3 separate regions of the Homo sapiens genome follow, and all the other regions are linked to region 2. The links come from fine-mapping of genetic effects on plasma protein levels. A gene starts in region 2. Each other region holds a variant in brackets. All regions are shown on one strand. Distances are between the middles of the regions.

Region 1 (10,192 bases), 14 kb before region 2:
TCGCCACACTGTCTTCCACAATGGTTGAACTAGTTTACAGTCCCACCAACAGTGTAAAAGTGTTCCTATTTCTCCACATCCTCTCTAGCACCTGTTGTTTGCTGACTTTTTAATGATCGCCATTCTAACTGGTGTGAGATGGCATCTCATTGTGGTTTTGATTTGCATTCAGGAAAGCTAATGTTGTAGTTCTAGTTTGAAAGCCAGCAGACTCAAGACTCAGAAAGAGCTAATGTTTCAATTCAAGTTCAAAGGCAAGAAAAAACAGATGTTGCAGCTCAGAGGTAGTCAGGCAGAAGAAATTCCTTTTTATTTGTGGGCAGGGTCAGCCTTTTTTTCTATTCAGACTTTTAACTGATTAAATGAGGCTAAGCTACATTACGAAGGGAAATCTACTTTACTCAGTCTATCAATTTCTATCAATTTAAATGTCAAACTAATCCAAAACATCCTCCCAGAAGCACATAGAATAATGTTTGACTAAATATGTGGGCACCTCATGTCCCAGTGAAGTTGACACAAAAAATTAACCATCACAGCAAGATTGCATGAAACAAGATCAATATACAAAAATAATTGTATTTTTATACAATTGCAATGACCAATATGAAAATTAATAGGAAAATTCATCTGCAATAGCACCAAAAAGTATTAAATACTTAGGAATAAATTGAACAAAAGAAATGAAAGTTATATGCTGAGAACTGCAAAACATTGTTGAGAAAATAAAGAAGGTCTAAATAAATGGAGAAAACCCTATAATCACGGGTTTTCCAATCCTTAACATTGTTATACTCCCCAAACTGATGTGTAAATTCAACACATTCCCTATCAGAATCCAAACTGACTTCTTTGTACAAATTAACAAGTTGATTTAGAAACTTATATGGAATTAAAAGAGATCTGGAATAGCCATAATAATCCTTAAAAAGAAGAATAAAGTATGAGGACTCAAACTTCTCTATTTCAAAACTTAACTACAAAACAACAATAGTCAAGACAGTATGGTACTGGCATAAGGATAGGCATACAGATCAATGGAACAGAACATTGAGAGCACAGAAATAAACCCATATGTCTATGGTCAACTGATTTTGGCAAGGGTACCAAGACCCTTCAGTGGGGGAAAATGGTCTTTCCAACAAATGGTGCTGGGATAACAGAATAGTCACATGAAAAAGAATAGGGACGTCTATAGAGATTTAAATTAGATTAGGGGTAGTTTATGGCTGAGGATGGGGTCAGGGTGGTAGGTGAGTGCTAGCCAAAAGATAGGAGATTTCATCTCAAGGGGATGAAAACTTTCTAAAATTGCGGTGGCTCACACCTATAATCCCAACATTTTGGGAGGCTGAGGCAGGAGGATCACTTGAGCCCAGGAATTTAAGACCAGCCTGGGCAACAGAGTGAGACCCTGTCTCTACAAAAAATTAAAAAGTTAATACCGAGTGTGGTGGTAGATGCCTGCAGTCCCATCTACTCAAGAGGCTGAGGCAGGAGGATTGCTTGAAGCCAGGAGGTCTAGGCTTCAGTGAGTTATGATTGCAATGCTGCACTCCAGCCTGGCCAACAGAGCAAGACCCTGCCTCAAATAAATAATATTTATATATCAAATAAATAATAAATATAAAATTGTGTAAAATTTAGTATATTAACATATGTGTAACCATTTGTGTGTAACCATGTGAATATATTAAATTTTACACAATTTTAATTTAAAATTGTTACACATATGTAAATATATTAAAAGCCATTGAATTGTATACTTTAAATGGGCAAACTGTATAGTATGTGAATTATATCTCAATAAGGCTATTTGTTTAAAAAAAAGAAGAAACTCTAAATTTTAAAGACAATGCAAAAAATACACAAGGCATCTCATTAATTTTTACACTGATTACATATTAAGATGATAATATTTTATATATATTGGTTTACATAAAATATATAATTAAAATTAATGTCATGTTTCTTTTTATTTTTTAATATGGCTACTAAAAAAATTCAAAATTACATATATGGCTCATTTTATATTTCTATTGGATAACGCTGCTCTAGAGATTTTACACACATTTGTAAAATGTGTGTAAAAAAACACTCTGAACCCTAACTTCCTTATATGTTATAAGGCTGTAATAATAGTACTGGCTTCACACAGTTATGGTGAGGATTAAATGGTTTTAAAGAACTTAGCATTTGGATGTTAGCTTTTATTCTAAGTGTTAGTTCTTATTATCAGAGAAGCCTCTGGGTACCATTGAGTACAGCAGTGATATAAAAAAACCCCAGTAGACACCTTGGATTTATTTTACTATTATAAAATTATTTTTAGAAATGAATCTTAGAAACCATCACATCCAGTAATCACTAACTGTCACCTTGCCAAACTGTTGTTTAACAACCCCCTGGTTTTCAAAACTTGAATCTGAGTATCTTTATTGTGGGACTGCGCTCTCTACTTTGCTGTAAGCCTGACCACTCCCTGTTCCCTTAGCAGAGCCTCACACCTGAGTTACTTCCTTGGTATTGGAGGTATTTGCATTTATACCTGATCCTACACTAGTCCAAGCCCCTCACCTTCCTGATGAAGAAACTGGGGCCCGTGGAAGGGACACTGAGCTGCTAAATGCAGAATTCAGCCTGCAGAGGACCAGGCCAGTCCTCACACAGGCAATGCATTATCCAGAAGACCCTGACTAGCAGGGACTGCAACACAGGCTATTCAGCTTGTATGCTAACACGCTATCCTTGGGAGTCTTGGTGGGACTTCCAGTGTTCTTTAGTTTATTGCCACTGGAGAACTAAATCATTATTGGCAATCATGATACCTTTAATGGAGACCAGTGGATCATTCTGATGCAGAGGGAGAGAAGATGGTACTTGGAACTCAGAAGTTCCAAATAGCCTGGTTTAACATACGCAAAAAATCCAGTTCTGTGTAAATCTGCCAATTAGCCATCTCTGCAGCACTGATCTCCCTTTTATTTCCTTCCTCATACTTGTTTATCAAATAATACTTACCAAAGCTCAATCATCTGATTCCCAGGGTAAGCCCAGAGAGAAGTGTGACCTGGGATAATTAGTCCCATTTCATTGTTGAGGAAACTGGGCCTAAAGAAGACAGGAATGGGAGAGCTAAGCCAGGACCAGAAGAGAGTTTGGCAAAGTTCACTGAATGCATATTTTGTTTTTGCCATATGCAAATACCACCTGCATTATTTAGTTATCTTTCTTTTTCTTCTTCTTTTTTTCTGCTCTGTCACACCAGTGCAGTAGTATGATCATAGCTCACTGCAGCCTCAAACACCCTGTCTCAAGTGATCGTCCCACTCCTCCCACCTCGGCCTCCTCAGCAGCTGGGACTACAGGTACGTACCGCTATGCCTGGCTTTTATTTTTAAGAGACGGGGTCTCACTACGTTGCCCAGACTGGTCTCAAACTCCTGGCCTCAAGTAATCCTCCTGCCTTTAGTTTTTATTTTCCTTTAACAGGCACTTACTGTTTTTATGTAAGTCAACTGATGTTGAAAGGAAATTTTACTTCAATGCCTTCAGTAGAAAACTAGTATCACGTGCCATTAATAGAAGGTTAATAAATATAATACAAAACAATTCTAATTAGAAACCGTTGTCTGGAGAGCTTCTAAAAATCCTAATGCCCAAGCCAGACCTTAGAGCTATTAAACTGGAATTCCTCTGGGGAGGAAGCAATTAGGCATAAGTAATTTGTTAAAGCTCTCCCCAGGAAATAGCATCATGCAGCCAAGGATGAGATCCACTAGAATAGATGCTGTTGCCTGCTAATGCCTCTAAGGCTGAAGAGTGCTTGCCCTCCTTAAGAAGAGAGATCAACAAGTGATAGAGAGGTATTAAAGAGACAATAGGCCTGGCGCGGTGCCTCATGCCTGTAATCCCAGCACTTTGGGAGGCCGAGGCGGGAGGATCACAAGGTCAGGAGATTGAGACCATCCTGGCTAACACGGTGAAACCCCATCGCTACTAAAAATACAAAAAATTAGCTGGGCGTGGTGGCGGGCACCTGTAGTCCCAGCTACTTGGGAGGCTGAGGCAGGAGAATGGTGTGAACTCAGGAGCCGGAGCTTGCAGTGAGCCGAGATCGCACCACTGCACTCCAGCCTGGGCGACAGAGCAAGACTCTGACTCAAAAAAAAAAAAAAAGAGAGACAATAGCCTAAAACCGACACTTTCTCCTTAGCATCAGAAGAACTGAAAAGTAACTTTGAAATGGGAAAAGTTTTCATTTGTAATTTGTTACTGTTGAATCAGTTGCTCCTTTGCAGTCTAAAACCAGCTCACATGGCACTTGCCCTTTGGAAAACACTGGATCAGAAGACCCCAGGTGGTGTGGTTTCTATTCCTGTGCCCTTTCAGCTCCAGCAGCTAGCTTCCCAGCCAAAGACTCCCACAAGGTCACTGGAGAACCCCTACTCACCTCTGTGTGTTCTCCAGCAGGGACTCCAAAATGCCTGCATTTACATCACACTGTCAGACACATC[C/T]TTCTATTTCAAAATGAATCTTCTCAGTGGCTCACATTAAAAACCTTAAGGCAAAACCGCATCTCCGTCTCCTTTCATTTCCTCTCAAGAAGCCCCTTGTTTTCGTCTAGGAATATCTGGCCCTAGAGAAGGCTTAAGTCAGCCCTGCCCTTTTGGATCTTAAAAAGAGGTATAGCTAGGGAAGAGGGAGAAACAGGAGACTCAGTGCAGATCCGCACATGACTTTGAGAGGGTCTTCTGCTGTGAAGTTTCTCTTTCATCCCTCACCTCTGAACACACACAAGACTGTCCTGATGGACGGATGCATTTAGAATGAAAGCTGGACTTTTGGGTGAGGATTCCAGATCTCCATAACATCATTTTCTTATCTGGCTTGGGGCATCACTGAAAGAACTGGGTACCTGCCTCTGTGGACTAGGGTTTGAAGAGCTGCCCCAGAAGGACTACATGGCCTCAAGAGCAAGCAGTTTGGCTCACTAGGCAGGTTGTTGAGCAAACCTCTGATCTGCTTACTTCCTACATTTACAACCTAGAACGCTGACACAGTGCCTACCACCAGATGAGCAGGCTACTTTACTGTCTTGTCAGCAGAATCCTTCTGTCTTGTTTCCCTTAGAGCCTAAGGTTCTGCTTTGAGGTCTCCTCCCTATTCTCCATCTCAAAGTTACACAGTCCCACCTCCTAGCCTTAGCTCTTGTTGTGCCCATAGTCCAGAATGTTCTTCTGCCCCATCCCTGTCTGTCCAAAGCCTACCCACCCTCAAAGCTGATTGAAAATGTCAACTCCTCCATAAAGCCTAAGATGATTCCCCTGGTCAAATAATAACAGTAATGGAATTAACAAAAAATAACAGTAATAATAATAGCCTAGCATTTGCTGAGTACTGCTGTGGGCAGGCAATGGGCTAAGATCTCATACTCATAATCTCAACCAAATCTTATACTAGATGTATCTTATTATCCCTGCCCTGCCATTTTTGATATCAACTTACTTGTTCTCTCTGTGCCTCATTTTTCTCAGATATCAATGGGGATTATAATATGTCTTCCTTGTAAGATTGTTTTAGGTATAAAATAAGCTAGTGTATATAAAGCATCAGCATAGTACCTGACACTATGGTTTTGGCTTAGTGAGTATCATTACTTCTTGTAACAACTTAAAGGTCTGGGTTTGTACTGATAAGGACAGGAGGAAGGGAAATACTGGGTAGAAGAGGGCAGGGTCCATGGCAAGGACTCCACCCTCAAGCCTGGACCCGCAGCCCTAGATGAGAACTTCACATCCCTGTTTTCCCGCTCGAATGTTGCCTTTTCTAAAACCACCCTGGCATGCCACACTTCCCTCCCCACCCTGTACCCACAAAAACTCCAAGTTCCACTGGCAGAGGAGCAGAGCGGTGCAGCAGAGAAGGAGAGAAGGGAAGAAGTGTCTGAACATCAAGAGTAGAAGAGGCAGCTGGACATCGGAGACTATGGTTGGAGAGGAATTTGGCCAGGAATGGCTGAACTCCAGAGGAAGAGTATCTTCCCACTCCATCCCCTTTCTAGCTCCCCATCCCACTGAGAGCCACCTCCACCACTCAATAAAGTCTCCACATTCACCATCCTTCAAGTCCCTGTGACCTGATTCTTCCTGGACATAGGACAAGAACCTGGGTATCAAGAGGGCAGGGTGTGAAAGGCTGTCACCCCAACCCTCCACTGAGCGGGTAAACACTTAGCTGTCTGTGGACAGCAAATGCTAAAAGAGTATTGTTTGTAACACATGCCCCCTTGGGCTCCAGAGGTCATGGACAACCCCTAGACACTGCCACAGGCTGGTACACAGTTTGTTCCTAATGGCTTCCAAAGGCAATCACCCCAGCTCCTGCTCCTGCTCTCCTGTGTGCTCCCCCTCATGCAAGGGGTTTGAGTGCAGTGGCCAAGTAAACAAGTCACCAATGTTGCAAGTCCCATGAGGAGGTCAAGGGAACAATCCCATCTCAGTATTATTCTCATCTTATAGATGAGAAAACCAAGCAATAGAGGTTGAGTAAACAGTCCAAGTTCAGTGACAAGCAAGAATTTTACTTCCCTCTGGTCTTCACTGAACTTTGCTCATCACAAAGATGATGTAAGGATAATCTTCCAGTTGCCATGGGAACTCATTTCATCAGCATCTCAGCCATCCTAGATGATTTGCATACATGACTTTATGCAGAAAGAGAAAGTTAAACTGACTTGAAGTCAACTGGCTCTACTGGCTACTGTCCTTTGAGATACTGTGATATTTGCATTGCATCATGGTTCTAGGGTATCCCAAAGACAGGTCTGCTCATTAATCCTCATACTTTCTCTCATTCACCAAGAATGTGATCCAGCTAGGGAAACAGACGAGAGCGACCAAGGAACGTGCTGGTGGAGCAGGTGTTGAATTCCTTCTCTGCATTTCTGCTCTTCCACTCTTTAATTGCCTTCTGGCAGGATGTTCCTGACTGCAGAGGCAACACCTAAAGCTTAGCCAGCTTAACTGCAGGTCTGCACAATAACAAACCCTTCAGAATTTCAGCACTCATTTCTTCATCAAGGGCCCCAAAATTATGGTTGTGTATCACCTACTCATTTCCTCTTGGTTCAACCTCACATGCTTTCATACTACTGCTGACCATCTGTACATGTTACTCACCCCTTTCCTCCTTTCCTCTATTCAAATAAGCCAGGCTGGGTTCGCACTCCAGAGGTACCCCTATTGATGGTTGGGCAAATAGGATACAGTTTCCAGAAAGAGTGACAACTTTGCTTCCTGGAATCCCTGCACAAAATGCAGGGTCACATATGGCCCTGAGGAGGGATTTGGTGGCAAAGAGATATCTAACTTTAGTAGTTTGAAAGTACTATGGCTAGCTGTGGTTCCAAACTCTCTACCAGGTCACCCTGGGGTAGCATAGTAAATTCACAGGACTGTTGGGAGGTATTTTAAATTTTCCAAGGGAAAGACAGGATCCTCCATATCTGTTGAACACTGCACAAACTCAGGGTTGTTCATGGTTTCAACATTAGATTACGTCATATTCCTTTCAGTGATGGCATCTTTTGGGGAAGCCATGTTTTTGGCAGTTACTGTGACAAAAAGCAAGTGCCACAAGGAAATCAGTGTGGAACAGGAAATGAAGGTGGCAGTGTCCACTCTGATTCCAAAGTTTAAGGAGTTGCACAGTGCCCAGCAGGCCACACATCCCATGAGTAAGTAATTGTGATGATTTCAGAATACAAAAAAATATTTTTTTTGTTTCAATGTATCATTTTTTTTCAAATGGCCAATACAAAGTTTTTAGCACATAAAGACTTTTAAGCGATTTGACCCTAACTAGTTAATCAATGAATCTATTTGGTATTTCTTTTGGCCTACAGATGCCATGAAAAAATTACTGAAGCACTAAGCGTTCTGCGACCAAGGAAGATTTGGAAACTTCTGGTCTGGTCAAGTCAGCCATGTTTCACAGCTCCCAAGAACTTCATTGGTACCTGATCCTATGACAAAGCATACCTGGGTCTTGGTTTTGGTTATCGTGGTTGTTTCATCTCAGAGACTTTTACATATTTTCAGTGCTAAATGTGCCTACTACATGGGGCCTGTGCAGCCATGTGCCTCGGCCAGCACCTGCCTCAGACTCCCTGGGCATCTCTCCCTTTCCTCTGCGCTTAAGTCACACCAACCTCCTTTCCATTCCTCCAACCCGCCAAGCCCTCTCCCATTGTAGGGGCTTCTTACTGATTCTCATCCTGGTTCACCTGTAGGTCCCAACTTAAATGCCACCTCATCAGAGAGCCCTCCCCTGTGATTCTCTGTCTCACCACCCATTCATTTCCTTCATAGCATTTTGTCCTCTGCACATATCTATTTAGCTCTATGAGGACAGAGTCCAGGTCTGATCTGCTTACTACATTCACAGAATTTAGCTGGGTGCCTGATATGTAATTGTCACTCAATAAATAACCGCAAGGTTAACAAGTGTCAGTTTAAATCATACACACATTTTAACTGGGGCCCTGTGCAGCCCAAAGCATTTCAGAAGGCTTTTCTGGCAAACAGCCCATCAGATAGACACGTGGGACAATTGCATCACTAGCCACAGGCAGAGACAGTCAAGGGCGGTGTTTGCGATCAAGAATCCCAGCTCTGCCACCTCCTTGCTGGCAGACATTGGGCAAGTTACTCATTCTGCCTCTACCAGCCATGTCTTTGCTTGGAAAAGGGTTGTTAAAAGGACTAACTATAAAGCTCTTAAGTAAAATCTGTCAAGAAACAAGCACTCTAAATAAAAGTAAGCTGCTTTTATTAGGACAAGGACAGTGTTCAAGGACTATCCCATGAATGCCCACACACCATTCTGAGAGGAAGTTTCTGCCTCAGAAACTGACAGGTCCAATGCTTCTTGCTTGTTTTAGAATAAAAGGCTCAATTCAAAAAATGATATATGGACAATTAATTCTTAGCCCCATTGGTGTCCCCCACACAACTCATGATTAAAACCAAAAAGAATCTGTTATGGAACTTTGATTATCCAGCTGGACAACAGAAATGGAGAATGTTAGGCAGTGACTGTCAATTTGTCTAGACTCAAACTGCTCTATGGCACCAAGCACATGGTGGAATGTGTGTGCCTAATCCTTCCAGTCCTTTGCTTGTCCCCTTCTAACCAGCTCTCTTCATGTTCTAGGCTTAAAAGTAAGCCCAGTGCACCATGATGTTGTTCCGGTTGTACCTGGGGAGTTCCAGGGGCCAAGGGCTGCTCACAGTCACAGAGAGGAAATGACACATGGCTCCTCTTCTTGCAGTGGGAAGAAGCATGAGTACCAGCCTTCATCTGTCCACACCTTAGTTACTGTTGCTCTCTTTCCTGGGTCTCCTTCGCCCAGCCTCTCCCCTACCTGATCCTCATGTCTGGATGCCTCATTTTCACAACCCCCTGGAATCACATCACTCTCCTCCCCAAGCGCTATCTACACTTCCTATTTCATGCATACCCACATCTTAGAAAACCATTTCTCCCACTGGCTTCCTATAGATGGCCTAGCTAAGGGTAATGTCTTTTCTGCTAACCTGATTTGCTGTCACTTTATAAATTTTATATAGGATGGTCTTACAAGACAGATGGTACTGATGGACTCAAACACGTGATGTGTTTCAATCCCAGATTCTCCATCTACTAGCTACATTTTTCATGGAAAGTTAGCTTTACATCTCTAAGCCTCAGTCTCCTCACCAGTAAAGTGGGCAGAATAATTTCCACCTCATAGCTTTGTTGTGAGTACGAGATGAGAAAACTCACATGAAACACACACCACAGTAACTGGTCCACAGGAAGCACACCCAAAAAGTCTACTACTGTGGTTGCTGAGGTCAACCCCCCATTTGGTAGATCTCAGCTTAGACATCATCTATTCTGGAAAACCTTCCCTCACCGCCACCCCGAAGATGTGTGTGCATCTAAAGCACCCTTGCTGTGATTGTCATTGCAAGGCGTGTCACACTGCCATGTCATTGCCTCTTAGCTTTTTTTTCTTTTGCCCCCTAGAATACTGTGAGCACATTACTGGTGGGGGCAGTGTTCCTTCTACTGGGGCAGAGCACCTAGCACAAAGTACGTGCTCAGGACATATTCTATCATATTAAAAATAGCTATTTAGGCCGGG
Region 2 (9,775 bases):
CCCTGCAGCCCCACAGGACATATGTTACAGTGCACTTTTTTAGCTTTGCTATCCATGGTTGGATTAAGTGTTTAACAACTCAGTGAACCCTCTGCCTTTTTGCAAGGGCAGAGGGTCAGTGTGACAGCCTTTAGCATCCTCACCCATGGCACCTGAGATCTCGTTTGGTGTCCAGGAAAAATCAGGTTGCATGAACGAATTGAAGGGCGGTGAATGTGGAGGATTTTATTGCCAGTGGAAGTGGCTCTCCACAGGAAGGGGAGGTGGAAAGGGGAGGGACCGGGAAGGTATTCTTCCCCTGAAGTCCTGCTGTCAAGTCATCCCTCTGAAGTCAAACTGCTTCTCTCCAGCATTCAGCTGCTTCTTCTCTCCTCCCCTTCTCTGCTCTCTGCCAGTGGAGCCTGGGGTTTTTATGGGTGCAGAATGTGGGGGCAGGGTGGGCCATGGGTGGTTTGGGAAACGGCAACATTGGAGTGGGAAAACAGGACTACATGTTCTCACTTTGGGCCACAGCACCAGGCTTGAGGGTGGGTCTTTGCCAAAAACCCCCACTCTTTTCTGCCTAGAATTTCTCTGTCTCCTGTCCCTATTACTCAGAAGAAAGAATTTGACCAAAGGGCTTAAGACAGAGTGAGAGACCCAGGCAAGTTTTAGAGCAGGAGGGAAAGTTTATTTAAAAAGTTTTAGAGCAGGAGGCCAGACACAGTGGCTCATGCCTGTAATCCCAGCACTTTGGGAGGCCGAGGCGGGTGAATCACTTGAGGTCAGGAGTTCGAGAACATCCTGGCCAACCTGGTGAGACCCCATCTCTACTAAAAATACAAAAATTAGCCGGGCGTGGTAGCTGTAATCTCAGCTACTCAGGAGGCTGAGGCACGAGAATGGCTTGAACCCAGGAGGTGGAGGTTGCAGTGAGCCGAGATTGCGCCACTGCACTCCAGCCTGGGAGACAGAGCACGATTCCATCTCAAAAAAAAAGTTAAAAAAAAAGAGAAAGTTTTAGAGCAGGAACAAAAGGAAGTACACTTGGAAGAGGGAGGGTGACTTGAGAGATTCAAGTGTATGGTTTAACCTTTGATTTGGGGTTGCATATGCTGGCATGCTTCTGGGGGGTTGCCTCCCTTCTCCCCTGATTCTTCTCTTGGGGTGGCCTGCCAGCACTTGGGAGGGGCCACATACACAGTATGTTTACTGAAATTGTACGCATGTTCACTTGAGGCATTCTTCCCTTACTAGTTGAGTGTTCTTAGAAGAAGCTCATACACCAGTTAAATTCGACCATTTTCCCTCCTAGTGCTCATGCTTAAGCCCATTCGCCCAGCTCCTAAGATCTTATCCGGAAGCTGCTAATCACCAGCTTCAGGTGTTCTATCTATTGGGAGACTGCCTTTCCCTGGTACCAGCTGTGACCAATTATTATTTTAGAGAAACAGTTTAATAACCATCTGACCCTCACCTGATGGTTGCCTGACATTCCTAGTGGTGGTGGGCGGGGAGTGGCGGGGGAACCCTCTTCTGCCCTGCTCATGTCTGACTAGCTATCTGCCGTGACACTTCCACTCTTCTTTTGGTAAGAGCATGTATGTATGAGGCAGGAGGTAGAAGCTACTTCCCATACTCCTAGGCTAGAAGTATCCCTTCAAAAGCAACTGACCATTTGGGGGAAGAAGCCTTAGTTTTCATTATCCACACAATTGCCCTATTTCTGCACTTCACTGGCCGCACAAATCACTTGGACTCATGTAACAGACACATGTGACTGTATCCATAATAGGTTCATTGCCCATTGCACACAGCAAGTCAATACGCCGAGAGGCCAGGTTGCAGCAGAGAAAGAGGTTTAATCGTAGGGTCACCAAATGAGGAGACAGGAAGAAACCTTAAATCTATCTCCTTGTGGCATTTGGGGCTAGGGTTTTTAAGAGTTTGGGAGTGGGCTGATGTGTTGGAGATGGTTGACTGGTTGAAGAGTGCATGGTGAAGTCATGGGACAGGGTGAAGCTGTATTTTCAACCTGATCCCCTTTCTTTGTGGGGGTTTTCAAACTGAAATATGGTAGAATTGGGGACCTGAAAAACAACTTAAGTGATTCTTAAACAAAAGCGTTCTGATTGTAATGTCAGAGATCCCATCTAAAGGAACAATAGGGATACAAATCAATTCCTACACAATCTTATGACCCTAATGTCAGAAATCCTATCTACAGGAATAATGCAGATGCAAATGGTCAGGATCTAGTGCTACGTGACTTTGAGCAACAAGGAAGTGGGCCAACGTGCAACCTAATCAATGCTTAATTATAACTATATTCCTGTCCAGAACCCAGCATGCAATTCTTGTCAACCCTGTGAGGGTGGTTTCATGACTCTCAATGGCCTACCACTTTCCATCTAGTAGGGCAAACCTGCCTTGTCTATCACTTTCCTTGTAATAAGCCCATTCTCCTTGTCAGGGAGTGGTATACAGGTGATAAGTGAGACTTCATGAAAAGGCTATGGAGCTTGTAGGGCAAATTATTTGCTCCTAAGAGACATCAACAGGACAAGATAGTCTTTTCTTATCCCAGGTGTTATCAGTCCTTAGTGGATTGATGCCTGGAACTGCAGAGCTCCTTAGAAAACTAAGCCCAGGGCAACCTAATTGATGCAGACGTGAAATCTGTTCAAGTGACCTCTAGCAAGTCACTGCAAGTGACTGAATACAAAATAGACTGTTGCAAGAAAAGAGCAACTTGCAGAACAATATGTATAGTATGATTCCATTTATATAGCCAGATAGATATAAATACATAGAGAAGCATTCAGAAGCTCTGCAGGAATGCTGGCACTGGTAACCTCTGGAAGCCACAGGAATCAGGGCCTCAACATTGTATTCTATGTATATTTGTATTGTTTGAAGTTTTTACAATAGCATGCATGCATGTATTGCTTATGTAATTTTCTAAGATTTTAATTTTTATAAGTACACATGGCTTCTCCTTTATTTGAAATGTGTACTAGATGATCAAAGCATTCTTCTAGGAGAAAATAAGTTTTTGTGGCCAAAAAAATTCTTTAAGTTATTTTTGGTTTTTAGGGGGTTGCCTCCATGTCACAGCTTAATCATCAGACACATTAACCTTGCAGCTCAGCACGCCCTCTGTTTGTCAGCAGACCTTCCTCGCCCATAGGGTAAGCAATAGAAAGCTTATAGGTATCAGTTTATTTTGCCTGGGATCAGGGTCTGGATTGTGAAGTGGGACATGTTGATAAACCTCTTCTCCAAAATTAGGTCAATGGGCATTTGGCTCATATTACCAGAATGCTGGCTGGCCATGTACAGCCTGTCTCCGAGAGAGGCTCTAATGTGGCCCCCACATTAGAACAACCTGCCAATGACCACATTAGAACCTCCATTGTTAAAATGCAGGTTCCTGAGCCCCATCCCAGATCTGAATCACAATCTCCAAGCATCAGCCCCAAGAACCTGAATTTTGTTGTTACATGCAGATAAAGTACGAGAACCACTTCCTCCATGGGTGAACTGAACTTACCAAAATAGTCAGTCCCGAGGGGCAGAGATGGCGTAGGTGCCAGTTCTTCTTTCTCATCCTAGATGCTCAGAGTCAAATTCTTGGCTCAGCAATAGACAAGTGATTTCACTGTGGGAAGACAATTCAGAGCCCTGTTCCAGGCTCCTCACATTGATTCTCTCTGTCTTCTTCCACTCCTCTTTGTCATCTTTGATGTCCCCTTGTGAGCTACGAAAAGACTTTCTGGGACACGACAGGATAAAAAAATAAATAAGTGCAAGCAGCCATTCATTAAACGTTTAGCCAGGATGCTGCTTTAACTGCATCCCATCATATCTCATTAATCTTCACACCAGTCCTGAGATCAGGTACTATTATTAACCCGATTTTACAGATGTGAGGAACTGAGGCTTAACGAAGGTAAGTAACTTGCAGGTGCGGGTATCCAGCTCTCTAACTCCAGAGCCCATGCTCTTAAAACCCTATTACTTGTCCCTGGTGGAGGTGAACACTGGGGGCCCTTTCATATAGGACTAGCCCTCGGGCTGCAATCTGAGCGGAAAAGGGAGGATGAGGGCATACTTCGAAGCTTCTTTTGCATAACTGGCGCTGGATTTTTACTGAGACTTTACGTTACAGTTTTTTTTTTTTAATTTTCAAGGTGCTTTTACGAACACATGAATAAAATATTTGTGTCATTTTGAACCTTACTTGTCTTATTTTATGCATGTATTTATTTATGGGGGGGCACAAGGACTCATCTGTGGTGGTGCAGCCACTGTAAATAAATTAGTGAAACTACTTCACGTCAATTTCTGTTCAGTACACTTTAGTGATGGATCGGAGGAAATTAATACATGTTTACAAAAAGCCCCTCCCCCAGTTGTTACATATGCCTCAGAGATACCAGTTGTGAAAAGTGCAGGTGCACTTACACACATACGCACACACACCCCACAAATGGTATCATACGAAAAAACATACCTGCAATCTGCTTTGTCCACTTAATTGTATATCTTGGATACAGAACTTGTTTCACTGGAAGGCTAAAAGGCAAAGTCTGGGGAGGCCTAGAGGACACAGGGGATGGGAGGAGGCGCTCTGAGCTGGATGTAAGGTCTCCACCCACGGCCAGAGCACAAGGTCGGATAACCAGTGGGCCTGCCGGCTTGGCTGCCTGGGCCCTCCCCTGCCGAGACAAACGGCTGGAGGGAGGAAGTGTGCGGCTGGGAAGCTCCGCTGCTCTGGCCCGGGTTTCCCATTTCCCCCTTCCCGCGCTGAGACGGCGAGGAAAGTTAGCCCGGAAATCTGCGCCCGCCTAAAACCCGGCCTGGTCCCAGCCACCGCCCCAGGAACTTCCCCCACCGCAGGGGCGGAGGTCGAGAGCAGGGATGGAGAAGTGGACCTGCGCGGGTGGACTCCGGGGCGCGGGTGGACTCCGGGGCGCGGGGGGACTCCGAGGAGCGGGTGGACTGTGGGGCGCGGGTACCGTCTCGCAGCGACCTCTGTCGGCGGCTCTGGGGATGGCCCGCATCTGTCTGCGTGTACCTGGTATACGTGCAGGTACATGTTCCTGTTCACGTGCAGACTGGGCGGGGGATGGGGGGGTCCACACCGGTGTACACCTTTGCATACCTCTTAGCAACTTGAAATTCCACCACGAGAGATATCTTTATTCCGCTATTCCTGTGCATCTGCACGGAGCCCCTAGGGCCATAGATTTGTGTGCAAATGAAATGAGGATGTAGTCTGGGTGCCCAAGGGGGGGTGCCTTGAGTGTGGTTGTCTGTATGCCTCCCTGAGGGTATTTCACTTTCTGCTCCCATCCGCCCCTATGAGCGAGTACCTATGAGCACAGGATGTGCACATATTTGAGTCTTATTAGTGGTACACGCAGTTTTATCATCTCCCCAGGTCTGTGTCTGTATGAAATGTGCATGGGTGTGTGTGTGCACGCGTGTGTTCCCACTCGGGGAATGTGGGGAGAGGTGCATGGAGCCAAGATGGGTGGTAAATAGTATGTTTCTGAAATTAAAGGACTAATGTGGAGGAAGGCGCCCCAGATGTACTAAACCCTTTGCCCTTCATCTCATCCTCTCTGACTTGGGAAGAACCAGGATTTTGTTTTTAAGCCCTTGGGCATACAGTTGTTCCATCCCGACATGAACTCAGCCTCCCGTCTGACCGCCCCTTGGCCTTCCTTCTTCCTCGATCTGTGGAACCCAGGGAATCTGCCTAGTGCTGTCTCCAAGCACCTTGGCCATGATGTAAACCCAGAGAAATTAGCATCTCCATCTCCTTCCTTATTCCCCACCCAAAAGTCATTTCCTCTTAGTTCATTACCTGGGATTTTGATGTCTATGTTCCCTCCTCGTTATTGATACACACACAGAGAGAGACAAACAAAAAAGGAACTTCTTGAAATTCCCCCAGAAGGTTTTGAGAGTTGTTTTCAATGTTGCAACAAGTCAGTTTCTAGTTTAAGTTTCCATCAGAAAGGAGTAGAGTATATAAGTTCCAGTACCAGCAACAGCAGCAGAAGAAACAACATCTGTTTCAGGGCCATTGGACTCTCCGTCCTGCCCAGAGCAAGGTAAGCACTTCCCAAGCCCCTACCTCCCTCCCCTCCCTGTGGGCCTGCAGCTGTCCAGGTGTAGAAACCGTTAGTGTGCTACCCCAGCAGCTGGCAGGAGGGAGTTGGTGGATTCCTGGAAGCATCCCTGGTGAGTCATCTGCTGGAACATTAGTGAAAACTTAGTACTCTAGGGACCGATGTACAGTGTCCATTTTAAAAGCCACCTAATAATAACTGTATAGCAAGATCTGTGTGTATGCATAGTTTGTGGAAATGTTTGTTTTATCTTATTTTGAAGTGGTGTGTATTGATGTATAAAAGTATATTCCTAAATGTTAATGCCCATCAGTTAAAGGATTGTATAGAGCTAAAGTGAGTGGTGCCTGCCTTACTATTGAAATTTTTAAAAAGCCTTTCGTGCATTCCTTAAAGTAATTGGATTCATAATTATAATAATGTTACAAATCAGACTTGCTCCCATATTTGTGATGGTCTTGGTCGTCAGTTGTGATATCAACCAAAATGACAGCTGGGATCCCCATTCTTGTGGATTAACTAACTTTGGCCCCAGTTAAAAAATGAAAAGCTATTATTGCTTCCTAAAGAGTTTTTAAATCTGTGAGAAGGGGGAAAAAAAGGTTTTTTTACTTGCCCAGGTAAAATTGTGTGCAACAACAATGTCATTTTAACAAAGGGATTACTAAACCCCAGGTGATGACCCACTTTTTCAAACAAGGAATTGCAAGATACTAGATGGAATGTGGGTAACCTCTTAGAGTTTAGTTTACTGGAATCTGAAATTGTATGATTTCCGTACATTCCTTCATGCTACTAATAAGTCATGGAATCCCTCTGTGCTGGACTCTGGGGGTAAAGTGCAAAACAAGATAGACATGATCCATGGCATAAGAGAGTTCACTCAGTGTGGCAGAGAAGACAAACAGTAAAGAAGAGACTGTATTGTTGCCATTGTAGTAAATGCTGTGGAAGGAGGGGAGCAAATAGTGGGTCCTGACTTCATCTAGGCACCATGACACTTCACGTGAATTATGTCACTAACTCCTTACCACAGTAGCATGCCCATTTTATAGATCAGGAGTGTGGGGCTTAAAGGGGCCAAGTGACTCACCCAGAGTCACACAGTTCTAGAAGTCTGCCTGGCCCTCAAACTAGGGATCTTTGCATGTGCCACCCATGCCATCTGTGACTATATCTTTTTATTCTTTAATAATAACTCCCTTTTCTAATTAAAGGTAACAAACAAAACTTAAAAAAGAGATGCCCACCCAAGCGTCATTGGCATGCTGATGTTGGCACCAGTGTTGGGAAGCCCTTAGCATACTCCAGGAAGTAGGAGTGTGTAACGTGGGGTCCCTTTGTCCTTCATGCAAGGGTTTCAAGAGTTTAGAAAACCTATGAAATTGCACACACAAAAATGTGTTTTAATCATCAAGACTCTCAGACTTACCATGCTGAGAAATGTGGGCTGAGGGATAGCGCTCCCTAGTATCAGCTGATGGGCCAGAGAGCCAAAGGAGGAGACCCACCACCATCACCTCTCCTGGACAGTGCTCTGTGGTTTCAAATGTAGGTGATACTAAAATGGGAGTTGCTTCTTAGAACCATGGCCGGGGTTCCCTTGACCCTGAAGTGCAGTTCACCTGAGATTGTCAAATGCATCTGAGGCATGCAGAGGAAGTGCTGGGCACACAGCTAGTGGGAATACCTCAGCGTAAGTGGCCAGGAGATGCCAGGAATCTCCACTATTTCCCTTCCAGTGTGCCAGCCTCTGGGTTTTACAGGCGCATGTAATTGCAGTACCTCTGTGCACATTTCCCTACTGCCTAGAATGACTTTCTTGACTATCCATGATATATAAAACACAGATACCGAATTGTTCCCTTACCTCTTCCTCTAGGTTCAAGTTAATATGTTATTGGTTGCCTTCTATAATATGTTATCTCATTGCCTTTCCCAACAAGCCTTTGAGATAAGTATTAGGTCCATTTTATAGACAAAGAGACTGAGGCTCAGCGAGTAACTTGGCCAACAAGTTGCTCCCACTGCTCAACAGCAAATGAGCGGTGGGACCAAAATTCAAGCCTGTGTCTGTTTAACTTCAAGCCTGTGAATGTACTAACCGGTGCCCTGTGCCAGCTAGTACTTTGCTACAGTCATAACCTAGACTGAAGTGATAGCCATGCCCCTAAAACTCCATGCTGTGGTGACAGCACTGAGCAGTGTCCAAGAAGGCTTGACTTCTAGGCCTGTCTCTGCCACTCACAAACTTTATAAGGGAATAAAGTACATAGCAAGGTCCGCCTAGAGTTAGTAGCAGTTCTGACAAAGCTGTAATTTGTCAATATTCCGTCACCCAACCCAGGAATGCTCATTTTTAAGGTATTTGACTGAAACAGTTGAGCATTGCCCTTCATATAGTTTAAAACAGTGGTTTCAGAACCACTTTCCTCCAGACCATGGGTGCTCTGCAAGGTGAATGGAGTTGTTTCAGAATGTTTCAATAATCATCCCTACCTCATTCGTAAGTGGCATGTAATTTTTGCAATCGGAAGATTTTCATAAACCCTGGATACTAACCTAGACTGGTTTCTATATCAGATGGTGGCTTATTTAACATAAAATTATGCATTTTACTATTTCATGGTGGATATATCAATATGTTGTGGTCTTTTCCCAATGAACACTTTGATTTTCAGGGGTTCTGGACCCTGAACATGGGTTAAACCAGTGGTTCTCAAGGTGTGGTCTTAGCGCCAGCAGCATCTGCTTCCCCTGGAAACTTTCTAGAAATGCATATTCTCAGGCCCTCATGCCTGCTGAATCAGACACTCTGGGGGTGGGACTCAGCCGTCTGTTGTAGCAGTGCTTCCAGGTTATCCTGACAGTCACTCAAATTTTAGAACCACTAGGTTCTCTATATGGGAGAGAGTAGTCTTTGAACTTGGAAAACAAGAGAAGCTAAACCCCTACAGCAAGGGCTGGTGACCAGGTCGTTGCCAGAACCTGAAAGTTCGCCTCTGTATTACCGTTCCTGTCCCTAACCCAAGTCCTTCAGTTCTGGGTGCTCCAGCACACACTGCTTTGTGCTGCAGTGATACAAATGTATGGCTCATCTCCCCAGCTGGCGGGGAGGCATTTAACACACTGACTTAATAAATATTTATTGAGTAAAAGTATTTGCTCCTAGGAAGCGGGATCCAGGTAAGCCCTTTTTTTCTCTCTCAACTGCTTCTAGCCCAGTGCTCTTTATGTAGTAAGCACTAAATAAACAACTGCTAGATGTTGATCCAGAAAGTCACATTCCTTCTCTAAGCTTTAAGTTTCTCATCTTAAAAATAAGAGGATTGTATCAGATGGCTTGCCTTAGGTCTCTTTCAGCTCCAGAGCCCCAAATACCCTATGGTTCTCTATTTAGAGATGTTCTTCCCCACAGACTGCCATAGAACTCCTGTAATTTACTTAGTATTTGCTTGACAGTATGGAGAAGAAAGGGGAGAATCAAGATTTTATTTAAAAAAAAAGTAGCTAGAATGTGTATATGGTTCACAAAGGTAACAAGAATTATTGACATTCTTTCTTCTCTTTTTTCTTCCTCTTCCTTCTCTTTTCCTCCTTCTCTTCCCCCTGCTTCTCTCCCTTCTTATAGATGTGTCACCAGCAGTTGGTCA
Region 3 (10,192 bases), 100 kb before region 2:
ACACCTGCTTTGCTCTACAAAGGGAAAGCCATCTGCTCATGTATTCATTGCATTAAATACCCACTCACTCACTCAGTCCACAATTATGTGTTGCCCTCCTACTGTGTACCAGGCCCTGGGCTCAATACAAGGCACACACTGGTGAGCAAAACAGGTCTGCTCCTGCCCCCATGTGCTTAGAGTCTAGTGATAAAGTCAGGTGTTAAACTAAGATGTGCACCAAGAATGTATGACCAGAAATATGTTAAGTGCCAGGAAGGAGAGGAACAGGGGCTCTGGTAGCCTCTAAGAAAGGAATCGACCTGGTCCAGAAGTTCAGGAAGGGCTTCCTGGGGAAGTAACCACTGCCCCAGGAGACAAGAAGAAATGAACACAGGGAAGAGGACAGGGAAGGAAGTGTGTAGGGGAGGCAACAGAATGTGCAGCGCCCCATAGCGCATGGACCAAGCACAGTGCCGTCGTTGGGGAACTGAGAGTCGCCGGGGGAGTATGGTGTGTGACCAGGCAGCACAGGTAGGTGGAACCAGACTACCCAGTCTTGTGAGCCCAGGTAGGGATCTAGGTCTCTTCCTAGGGAGCAATATAAAACTGCTCAGAATAGGGATTGACCTGATTGGATTAAATCTACTTAGGTGCTGGACATTTGGGGTGGCACAGGGAAAAGAATGTCTCAACCCTCAAAGAATTTTCCGTCAGATTCCCTGGCATTAATAAAGCTCTGCTCAAAATTAGGTCATTGGTTTTTCTCAGAAATATAGGTATCACTCTTGTGCTAACAATGGTTTTAAAAATATATAAAAATTAAAATAATAAGCCAGGCACAGTAACTCATGCCTGTAATCTCAGCACTTTGGTAGGCCAAGGCGGGAGGATCACTTGAGGTCAGGAGATCAAGACCAGCCTGGGCAACATAGTGAGACCCCCATCTCTACTAAAAATAAAAAATTCTCCAGGCATGGTGGTGCATGCCTGTAGTTCCAGCTACTCAGGTGGCTGAGGCAGGAGGATCACTTGAGCCCAGGAGGTCGAGGCTGCAGTGAACTATGATCATATCACTGCACTCCGGCCTGGGTGATAGAGTGAGATCCTGTCTTTATTTTTAAAATAAAAAGAATAAAAATATCTAATACCTCCTAAGTATTTGCTGCTTTATGTTTTTACTTATTATTTCATTCAATCCTTGCCTCAAGTTGTAAGCATTATCACTCCCATTGCATAGATGAGGAAAATGAAGTTCAAGAAGGGATAGTAACTGCCCAAGGTCACACAGCTACTGGCAGATCTGAGGTTCAAACCTGGGACTGTCTGAATGTCAGCTCTGCCATCTCTAGGCGCCATAATCTTGGGAATTCTTGCCCAGAAATTCAAGGACAGCCAACATGACAGGTCTAAACCATTCATTCCTCCTGAAATGTCAAAGTCAACAATGGGCTATACTTTGCCAAAGCCACTGGCCAACTGTCTCCTTGTCTTACTTGACCTTCTGTGCCAGTGAGCAGATGATCACCCCTCCTTCTTAAAACATGGTTCCTCTTTGATCAGTACCTGGTTGTCCTCCTACCTGCTGCTATTCCTTCTCAGTCTCCTCTGCCCACTACCCCTCCTCAACTTGACCTTTAATTGTTAGGCTCTACAAAGTTCTGCCCTTGGCTATTTTTCTATTTATAATCCTCCATTTGATGATCTCATCCACCCACCCCAAGACTTTAAATTGGATCCATAAACTGGTGACAAATCCACACCTCCTTCCCCCACCTCTCCCCTGGTCATGTCTCCACATGGTTGTCTAATTGACCCACCAAGTTAACTCTGGACACCCACCGCCAAACTCTCTCCTGCCCTTAACAACTCCATCTCACTAAACGGCACCTCCTTGTACTTTGTTGCTGAGGCCAAAAGTCTAGGTCTTATCCTTGATTCATCTCTTTCCCATATGGCTCACCTCCACTCCATTGACAAGCCCTGTTGTTTTGCCTTTCTTTCAACTATATTCTGAATTCACCCACTTCTTACTACTTCCATAGTACCATCTTAGTCCAAGCAACTGTTTTGTCTTACCTGGACTACTTCAGTTGCCTCCTAACTGGTCTCTCTGCATCCGTCTTTGCTCTCCTACATTCTATTTTTCACACAGTAGTCAGAGATACAGGTGTTCAATTTGTACACTTAAAGAGTCTGACCTGGGTCCGAATCTTGCCTCAGCCATGGGGCAACCCACTTTGCCACTTGGTTTCCCCATCTCTCAACCAGGGGTAATGAAATCTGTGATAGCATTGTTTGAGCACTAAGTGAGGTGGTGTGTATATCATGCTTAATGTAGTTCCTGGCTTGTAATGAGTGCTCAAATATGTTATTACTACACACTGCTCAGATTTCCTCAAAGGCAGCCTTGCTAGATGAGCATCAGCTGAAGGTGATGCTGATCAGAAAATGAAGCAACGCCTAATTCATTATATGTCAGCCTCCCAGTTCCTATCTGACCTATGGTGGCCATGGAGCATCACTTCCCGCCCCATCCCTGGATGCCTGTTGACAATCACGGATGTGCACACACACTGGCCTATGAGCAGAGTTTTGAAATGTGAAGTGAGATGGGATTTGAATAGCAGTTTTCTTTGCACATAAAGAAACCACTCCCTGAAACCACTATCCTCCAGACCCAGATGGGAGCCCTGAAATTTACAAGCTCCAGCTCTGAGACAGGGCTTTGCTGTCACAACTTGAAAGAGCCAAAGGCCTGGCCAAGAGAAGAGGTGGATGTGGCCAAGGGTAGAGTCACGATGTTTGTGCCCTACTGTGGACTTTTCAAATTATGAAAACAAAAAATCTCATTCTTATGGAGACATGAGACCCAAACATCATAGGCTGGAGGATGCCTGCCCTCTGGTGAGGAATCACAAGGCAGGCCCCTGCATTCACCTTCTCTCCTCTTTCCTCACCCCTTCCTGGAAAACAGGGATGAGGCTACAAAGTCAGACAGACCTGGGTTCAAGTTCTAGCTCAGCCACTTTCTGGCTGTGTGACCTGTGACAACTATGAATCCTCTTTGAACCTTGGTTTGTTCATCTATAAACTGAAAAGTAATGGTATTACCGATTTCATAAGGAGCTGTGATCATTGTAGAAATAATAAGTATCGTATCTAAAAAGGGAGAGGCAATATAAGATAGCAGTTAAGACTGTGGTCTCTGGAGTTTGAATCCAGCTCTTCCACTCACTGGCTGTGTGACCTTCAACGAGTCACTTGACCTATCTGATTGTCTAATCTGTAAAATGGGGATAACAATTGCTCCTGTCTCCATGATACATTGTGGGAACTAAAGTTGTTAACACATGTCAAGAGCCTTGAACAGTGGCTGACACTTAGCAGGTGCCTGCTTGCTGTTATTTCTGCCTGCTTCCTAGGGCCCACAGATGACCTGCTGTACAAAGAGCTTGGGTGGAAAGGAAGTCCCAAGATCAGGTGGAAGATAATTCCATTACGTGCTCCATTATATGAAGACTCATTGTAATTTTGCTTGATTCCCAGAAAGCTTTGCACCTGTTAGCAAACTAACTCCTGAAAATGAGGCTGCTGGGACCTACATGGGACAAGTCTTTCCATAGAGCTGTAAGGGAAGACATGCAGATGGACACAGTTCCTGTGCCATCTACTCTTAATGCCCACTTACCATGAGCACACAGAATGAACTGGCTTCAAACAGCATCTGGCCTCCTGCCTCTAATCGGTTCTCCACTAAACAGCCAAAACAGACTTGGCAGCATTCAGCAATGCCCATCCTATCCCTGCTCCTCAGGGACCCCAGAGAGAGTCCAAGCCCCTTACCTGGCCTTCAGATTTTCATACAATCTGCCTCCAGCCCCCTTCCCTGATGCTTTCTCTCCATAAGATGTTCCCTCTGTCCACCCACCTCAAACACACATACCACTGCCACTCTGGACTACTTACTTCCCCAAATGTAAACCATAGGTTTATATCTTTGTGCTTTTTCCCCTTTGGTTTGCTCAGTCTGGATTGCCCATTGTATTAGTCCATTCTCCCGAGGCTGTAAAGAAATACCTAAGACTGGGTAATTTATAAAGAAAAGAGATTTAATTGGCTCATGGTTCTGCAGGCTGTACAGGAAGCATAGTTCCTTCTCCTTCTGGGGAGGTCTCAGGAAGCTTCTAATCATGGTGGAAGGCAAAGGGGGAGTGAGACATCTCACATGGTGGGAGTGGGAGCAAGAGAGAAGGAGGAGGTGCTACACACTTTCGAACAACCAGATCTCACAAGAACTCACTCACTATCGCGATGACAGTACCAAGGGAGATGGTGCTAAACCATTCATGAAGGAACACCCCCATGATTCAACCACCGCCCACAGGGCCCCTCCTCCAACACAGGGAATGCTCACTCACCTGTGCAGTCATTGCCACATCATAGGTACAGAGGGTGGTCCCGCCATCTGGTGAAGAAGATGCATGGGCAAGATATGGCTGGATGCATGCCAGGACTTGTCTAGATGCACAGACGATATGTGGCCAAATGCTCCACGGTACCAGACACAGACAATGAGTCTTCCAAATCCTGGAGGGCTGGGGCCACCTGCTTTCAGGAGCTGGGGCCTCAGAATTGAACAGACCTGGTTCAGTGTCACCCTGTGTTGGCAGGACCCCCAGTCCCCTCTTCTCTGTGTTCTGTGATGGTGGTGAAGAGTGCAAGTGTCATGTCAGACAGAACTCGGAAAAAAAACAGCTCTGTAACCCTGGGGGCATAATTTTATCTGTCTGAGCTTTAATTTCCTCTGTCTGTCAAATAGAGTTGATGGTGGGACTGATGTCATAGGTTGTTAGAATTAAAATGAGTCACTCCATATAATGTGCCTAGAATGATGCCAGGCACAGAATTTGTATCCAGTAAGTGGTCACTGCCATTGTGGTTGGAAATACTCTGGCCATTTTTATTCTCCAAATTCCACCACACATCCAGCCTCTCCATTAGCTAGCACTGTGCGGCATGCATTCTCTCTGTAAGCCTCAGCCATTGAAGAACTGCCCAGAGAGACAAGGCAAGGTGAAAATTACATCCAATCCTATGTTCACAGGGACCAGACGAGCAGATTCAGAGTTGGATTGGATTTGGTCATTCGTTTATTCATTCATTTAATTATCCACAATTATGTGTTGAGAAACTCTTGTATGTCAGGCCCTGCTCTGGCTCTTGGACCACAGTCAGCAGTACAGAGATGGTCTCTGCCTTCAAAGAACTCACATTCCAGAGCAGTGCTGTTCAACAGAAATCCCACAAGCACATATGTGACTATAATTTTCTTGTGGTTGCTTTTTTTAACAGGTGCAAGGAAGCTTAATGATATATTTTATTTAGCCCACTATATCCAAAATATAATCATTCTGATATGTCATCAATATTAAAAATTAGTAATTGGATACTTTACATTCTTTTCTGTGCTAGGTCTTCTAAACCCAGTACGTATTTTTCACACACAGCCCCTTTCAGTGTAGACTGGCCACAGTTCAGGCACTCAGTAGCCACAAGGCCTCTGTATTGGACAGAGCTGCTCTCTTGTGTGTGTGAGGGAGCACCACCTTGTTTTTTAATTTTTTATTTTAATCAGTATATTGAAGAGTTATCTTCACTTCTATGCTTATTGCAGCACTATGCATAATAGCCAAGACTTAGAAGCAAACTAAGTGTCCATTAACAGAC[A/G]AATGGATAAAGAAAATGTGGTACATACACACAATAGAGAGCTATTCAGCCATAAAAGAGAATGAGATCCTGTCATTTCCAACAACATGGACGGAACCAGAGGTCATTATGTTAAGTGAAACAAGCCAGATACAGAAAGACAAACATCACATGTTCTCACTTATCTGTGGGAGCTAAGAATGAAAACAATTGAACTCATGGAGATAGAGGTAGAAGGATGGTTACCAGAGGCTGGGAAGGGTAGTCAGTGGGGATAGTTAATGGGTACAAAAAAATAGAAAGAATAAATAAGCCCTAGTGTTTGCTAGCACAACAGCGACTATAGTAAAATAATAATAATAATTGTTCATTTTTAAATAACTAAAAGAATAGAATTGGATTACTTGCAACACAAAGGATAAATGTTTGAGGTGATGGATACCCCATTTACCCTGGTGTGATTGTTATGCATTGCACGCCTGTATCAAAATATCTCATGTACCTCAAAAATATATACACCTACAATTTACCCACAGACATGAACATGTTTTGGTCTCCCCCATCCCACCCCTGCAAAGCCTTCACCATTTTTCAAATCAAATCTAAGCAACAGGCAAACCTGGCTTCAGACCCCAGCTCCTCTAATTATTAGCTGTGAAAATGCAAGATCCTTGTTTCATTTGATTTCCTGGGGCTGCCGTTACAAAGTACCATAAAGGGCGGGGGTGCTTAAAATAACAGAAATGTATTCTCTGACACTTCTAAAACCAAAGTCCAAAATCAAGGTGTTGGCAGGGCCATGCTCTCTCTAGAGGCTCGCAGAGAGAACCCATTTCACACCGTTCTCTTAGCTTCTGGTGTTGCCAGAAGTCCTTGGTATTCCTTGGCTTGTAGATGTGCCCCTGCAGTCTCTGTCTCCATCATCACAGAGCATTCACCCGTGCATCTGTGTCCTCATGTGGCATTCTCCTCTCTATGTGCACCTGCCTCTGTATCTCTTCTCTTCCTAAAGGATAACATTCATATCAGATTAAGGGCCTGCCCTACTCCAGCATGACCTCATCTTAAACACATCTTGATTACATCTGCAAAGACCCTATTTCTAAATGGGGTCACATTCACAGGTACCAGGGGTTAGGACTTCAACCTATCTTTTTGGGGTACACAATTCAATGAACAACACAGGGCCATTGTGAGGATTTGACAATCCACTGTGTGCAAATGCTCCGACATCTCAAAGAGACTCCTTTTATAGTCTCTGCTGGCATCTTGGCTGCTAGATCTCTGCTTGCCCTTATGGCTGACACCAGCCATCTCTGGCAGTTCCCATCACCCCCAGACTTGCCAGCTGCAGGGCATGTGACTCAAACTAGAAATGCACAAAAGGTGACTCCCCATGGAGCAAGCTTAGCTACTGGGGGACTCAAAATGGGAAAAAAGCAGAAGAGGTGTTTGCCCTCCTGTAGAGCCCTGCTCAGGCGGCAGAGGTCCGTAAGACCTCTTGGGACTGTCCAGCAAGATGGAGTAGCCTACAGGGCTGCTGCAGAACGGTGGTCACAACCGTAACACATTCCTTCACGTTACTCTCCTCCTTCACCACCGCACGCCCTTTCCCTCATGCCTTCTTCCCTAAGGTCACACTCCTGCCCTGGTTTGAGCACACGATCCCTCAGATTTGCTTGTCTAGAGTATCTGGACTAAGATATTCAATAAAGGGAAGTTCTATTACCTTTCCAGATTCCGCCAAACAACATCACCTCCACCCCACTCCGACCCCAGTTACTTCATGCTCCCAGGCACCCTGAACACTTACAGCTATAGTAGCACTTAGCAGATCATAATTACTTGCTTCCTTGCCTGTCTCGCCCACCAGTCTGTGGCCCCTGCCATGAACTGCACTCTCTTCATGCTGTATCCCAGCACCTGCATGGACCACTTTCTATTCATCACTCTGTCCCGGGCATCCAGCACTCAGATATTTGATAAGTGACTTGCTGTGATTCAAGTAGCTAGGATCTGCTGACACACGAGGAGGGTGTCTATAAAATCTCTCTCACTCACTCCCACCCTGCCCCTGAGATAATGCTTTTCTATCAGCTTACTGATGCCAGAAACCATGTTTTCCAGGAGACAAAAATCATAATAAGCGATAAGATTTAAAAGCAAATATTGCTAAAAGAGAAAGCATAAGCCCTTAAATGGTAATGAGGGTGTAAATGACTGAGAATGGTTCTTTTCTGATAGGGGCTGGGGAGTCATGGGGTGGTGGAGGTAGGGGGACAAAGGTGGGGCAGAGGTGGCCAGCCCAGGACATTTTATTCTCACATAGAATCAACACCATGCTGCCAGCCAAAGAGACAGCTACCTTCTGGGGGCAATCTGAGGGGTGAAAGGTGCCTCTCCCCCAAGTTAGCTCTGCCATTGATCTGCTGTGTGCCCCAAACTCCCACCCCTCCACGGATCAAGTATGCAATGCAATGAAAGAAAACTCACGAAGCCAGAATACCTGGTTTTCCCACTGGCATTTCCACCTGCTACTGTGTGACCTTGGGTGAAGCCTTTATTCACCCTCTCAGTTTATTTAAACATAACATTAAGATGATGATGACGATGATACAATTCTCTGGTTTATTTACAGGGTCATTGGAAAAATAAAAAAAAGTCACATGTATGAAACTGCCTCCCAGTATGTAAAGTGATTTGCACATATAAGGCATGTATGTATGTGTTGAATGTATGTGTTTGAGACATGGTCTCTCTCTGTTGCCCAGGCTGAAGTGCAGTTGTGTGGTCATAGCTCACTGTAACCTTCAACTCCTGGGCTCAAGCAATCATCCTGCCTCAGCCTTCTGAGTAGCTGGGACTACAGGTAGGAGCCACCACGCTTGGCTAAGTTTTCTGTATTTTTTGTAGAGACAGGATCTCACTATGTTTCCCAGGCTGGTCTCCAACTCCTGGGCTCAAGCAAACCTCCCACCTCAGCCTCCCAAAGTGCTGGCATTACAGGTGTGAACCGCTGTGCCCAGCCAAGATAGTTATTATTTTTAGAACTGTGGTGAGGACCTTTTTTCTTGGAAACCTGGAGCTCTCAGGGAGGGGAAAGTCAAGGGGCAGAAATCCAGCTCTCTCTGTGTGCCTCTCGACCACTCACCCCCATGGGCGCCATTCTGCGTCTAGGGTTCTGGGTGCTAGGAGTCCATCTGCCCCTCAGGCAAAGGGGAGCTGTCACTATTCCCCTGTATACTGTCACTCAAAGCTCCTGTTCCCAGCCCCCACAACCCCAGGATAATCTGAGCTCTAGGCCTTTCTCCCAGAGTCAACAGGCTCCCCCAAAATGACTAAAACTCTGCCTGAATTGGAAGCTATGGAGCACTCAGTTCTCACCTCAGCTTTAACTTGTCAGGGTGGTTCCTAGACATAGGCTTTCCTCTTTGGGGGAAGGTTTTAATGAAGAAATCTGAAAAGTGAATAGGACCACAGTGTAAAACCAGAAAAGTAAAAGCCACAGCAGTGTCTCCTCCCAGGGAGGGTTTCTGTTCTCTGCAGGAAACACCCCGAAATCTAGACTTTTCCTTTCTAACTCTGCATTCCTCCTTGCGCACTGCCATTTCTGCACTTTCAGTGAGTCAAGGCAGTTACAAAAGCCTGCCCAGGTTCAAGGGGAGGAAACACAGACCCCCGCTTCAATGCAGGTGTGTCTCATTATAAAAATGTCCCCAGTGTAAGAGCAGCATGGAGGATGGGCTATACTTGGTGTGGCTATCTCCGGAAAATACTAACTGCCATACTAGCTCTTTAATGAGGGGGAAGAAATGTTCATTAAAAACTATTAACTCAGGCTAAAATATAAAACAGAAAATAGTGAATAAACATTCATACCACAAGAAAACAGCATGCTTGCCCAAGCATCCCCTTAGAATACATTTTGATAATGATAATAACAATTTGCTAAGAGCTTCCCAGCTATAAAATGTCTCCCCATCATTACCTCCTTCCATCCAGCAACGCTGTGAAGCAAATACATCCATTTCCCTGTTAGGGAGATGGAGGTCCACAGCAGTGCCTCACCCTGACTCACACATTTGTTAGTGAGAGTTTTGAGACTGAACCCAAGGCTTCTGACTCTAATTATGGGTTCCTGTCCACATCTGACCAGCAACCAGTTTGAGTGATATTTAGGATCTGTTTCACAGAGTTTGAAAGTCAATACAAAATGTTCAGTCTAGTGATCTGGCTGTGGCTTTACCGCAGTTTGAGTCTGAGCAAATCACTTTCTGAGTGTCAGTTTCACCATCTGTAAATGCAGAAGATTGCACTACAGGAATTGAAACTTTTTCCATGTAAAGAAAAATGTAAGCAATCACACCCTTTCTCCAGGCAAAATCTTACATGAGGATTCCTACTCTATGAAACATCTGTTCAAAAATAGAGCTGCCCTACCCACCAAAGCTAAACATGCAGCCACCCAGTAACCCTGCAATACCACTCTGGGTATATACCCGAC

Direction of the effects. Positions count from the first base shown, and alleles are read on the strand shown. Strength reflects both the effect of a copy and how common the allele is.
For the plasma level of the protein whose gene starts at base 6,049 in region 2, C is the low allele of the variant in region 1 and T is the other (strong association).
For the plasma level of the protein whose gene starts at base 6,049 in region 2, G is the high allele of the variant in region 3 and A is the other (weak association).

What was found. PIP is the posterior inclusion probability: the model's chance that the variant is causal. The UK Biobank Pharma Proteomics Project read protein levels with antibody pairs (Olink). The fine-mapping took linkage between variants from a reference panel, not from the people measured, so its PIPs are less certain.
Region 1: its variant is fine-mapped to the plasma level of the IL12B protein (UK Biobank, PIP above 0.99).
Region 3: its variant is fine-mapped to the plasma level of the IL12B protein (UK Biobank, PIP above 0.99).

What each region holds. Positions count from the first base shown.
Region 1 is chr5:159,340,435-159,350,626 of GRCh38, reverse strand. IL12B-AS1 (IL12B antisense RNA 1) reads right to left here. Exons shown (of 5, transcript NR_037889.1): 3 at 3,022-3,111. Among named protein-coding and RNA genes, the nearest start is that of IL12B-AS1, 14 kb to the right of the region's middle. The variant C/T (reference allele first, on the strand shown) is at 4,518.
Region 2 is chr5:159,326,761-159,336,535 of GRCh38, reverse strand. It overlaps IL12B (interleukin 12B), which reads left to right and starts at 6,049. Exons shown (of 8, transcript NM_002187.3): 1 at 6,049-6,104; 2 at 9,754-9,775. The coding sequence starts at 9,754. IL12B-AS1 (IL12B antisense RNA 1) reads right to left here and starts at 5,018. Exons shown (of 5, transcript NR_037889.1): 1 at 4,496-5,018; 2 at 3,533-3,754.
Region 3 is chr5:159,430,702-159,440,893 of GRCh38, reverse strand. No RefSeq gene overlaps it. Among named protein-coding and RNA genes, the nearest start is that of LINC01845, 30 kb to the left of the region's middle. RefSeq lists a silencer at 541-590 and an enhancer at 4,444-4,944. The variant A/G (reference allele first, on the strand shown) is at 5,710.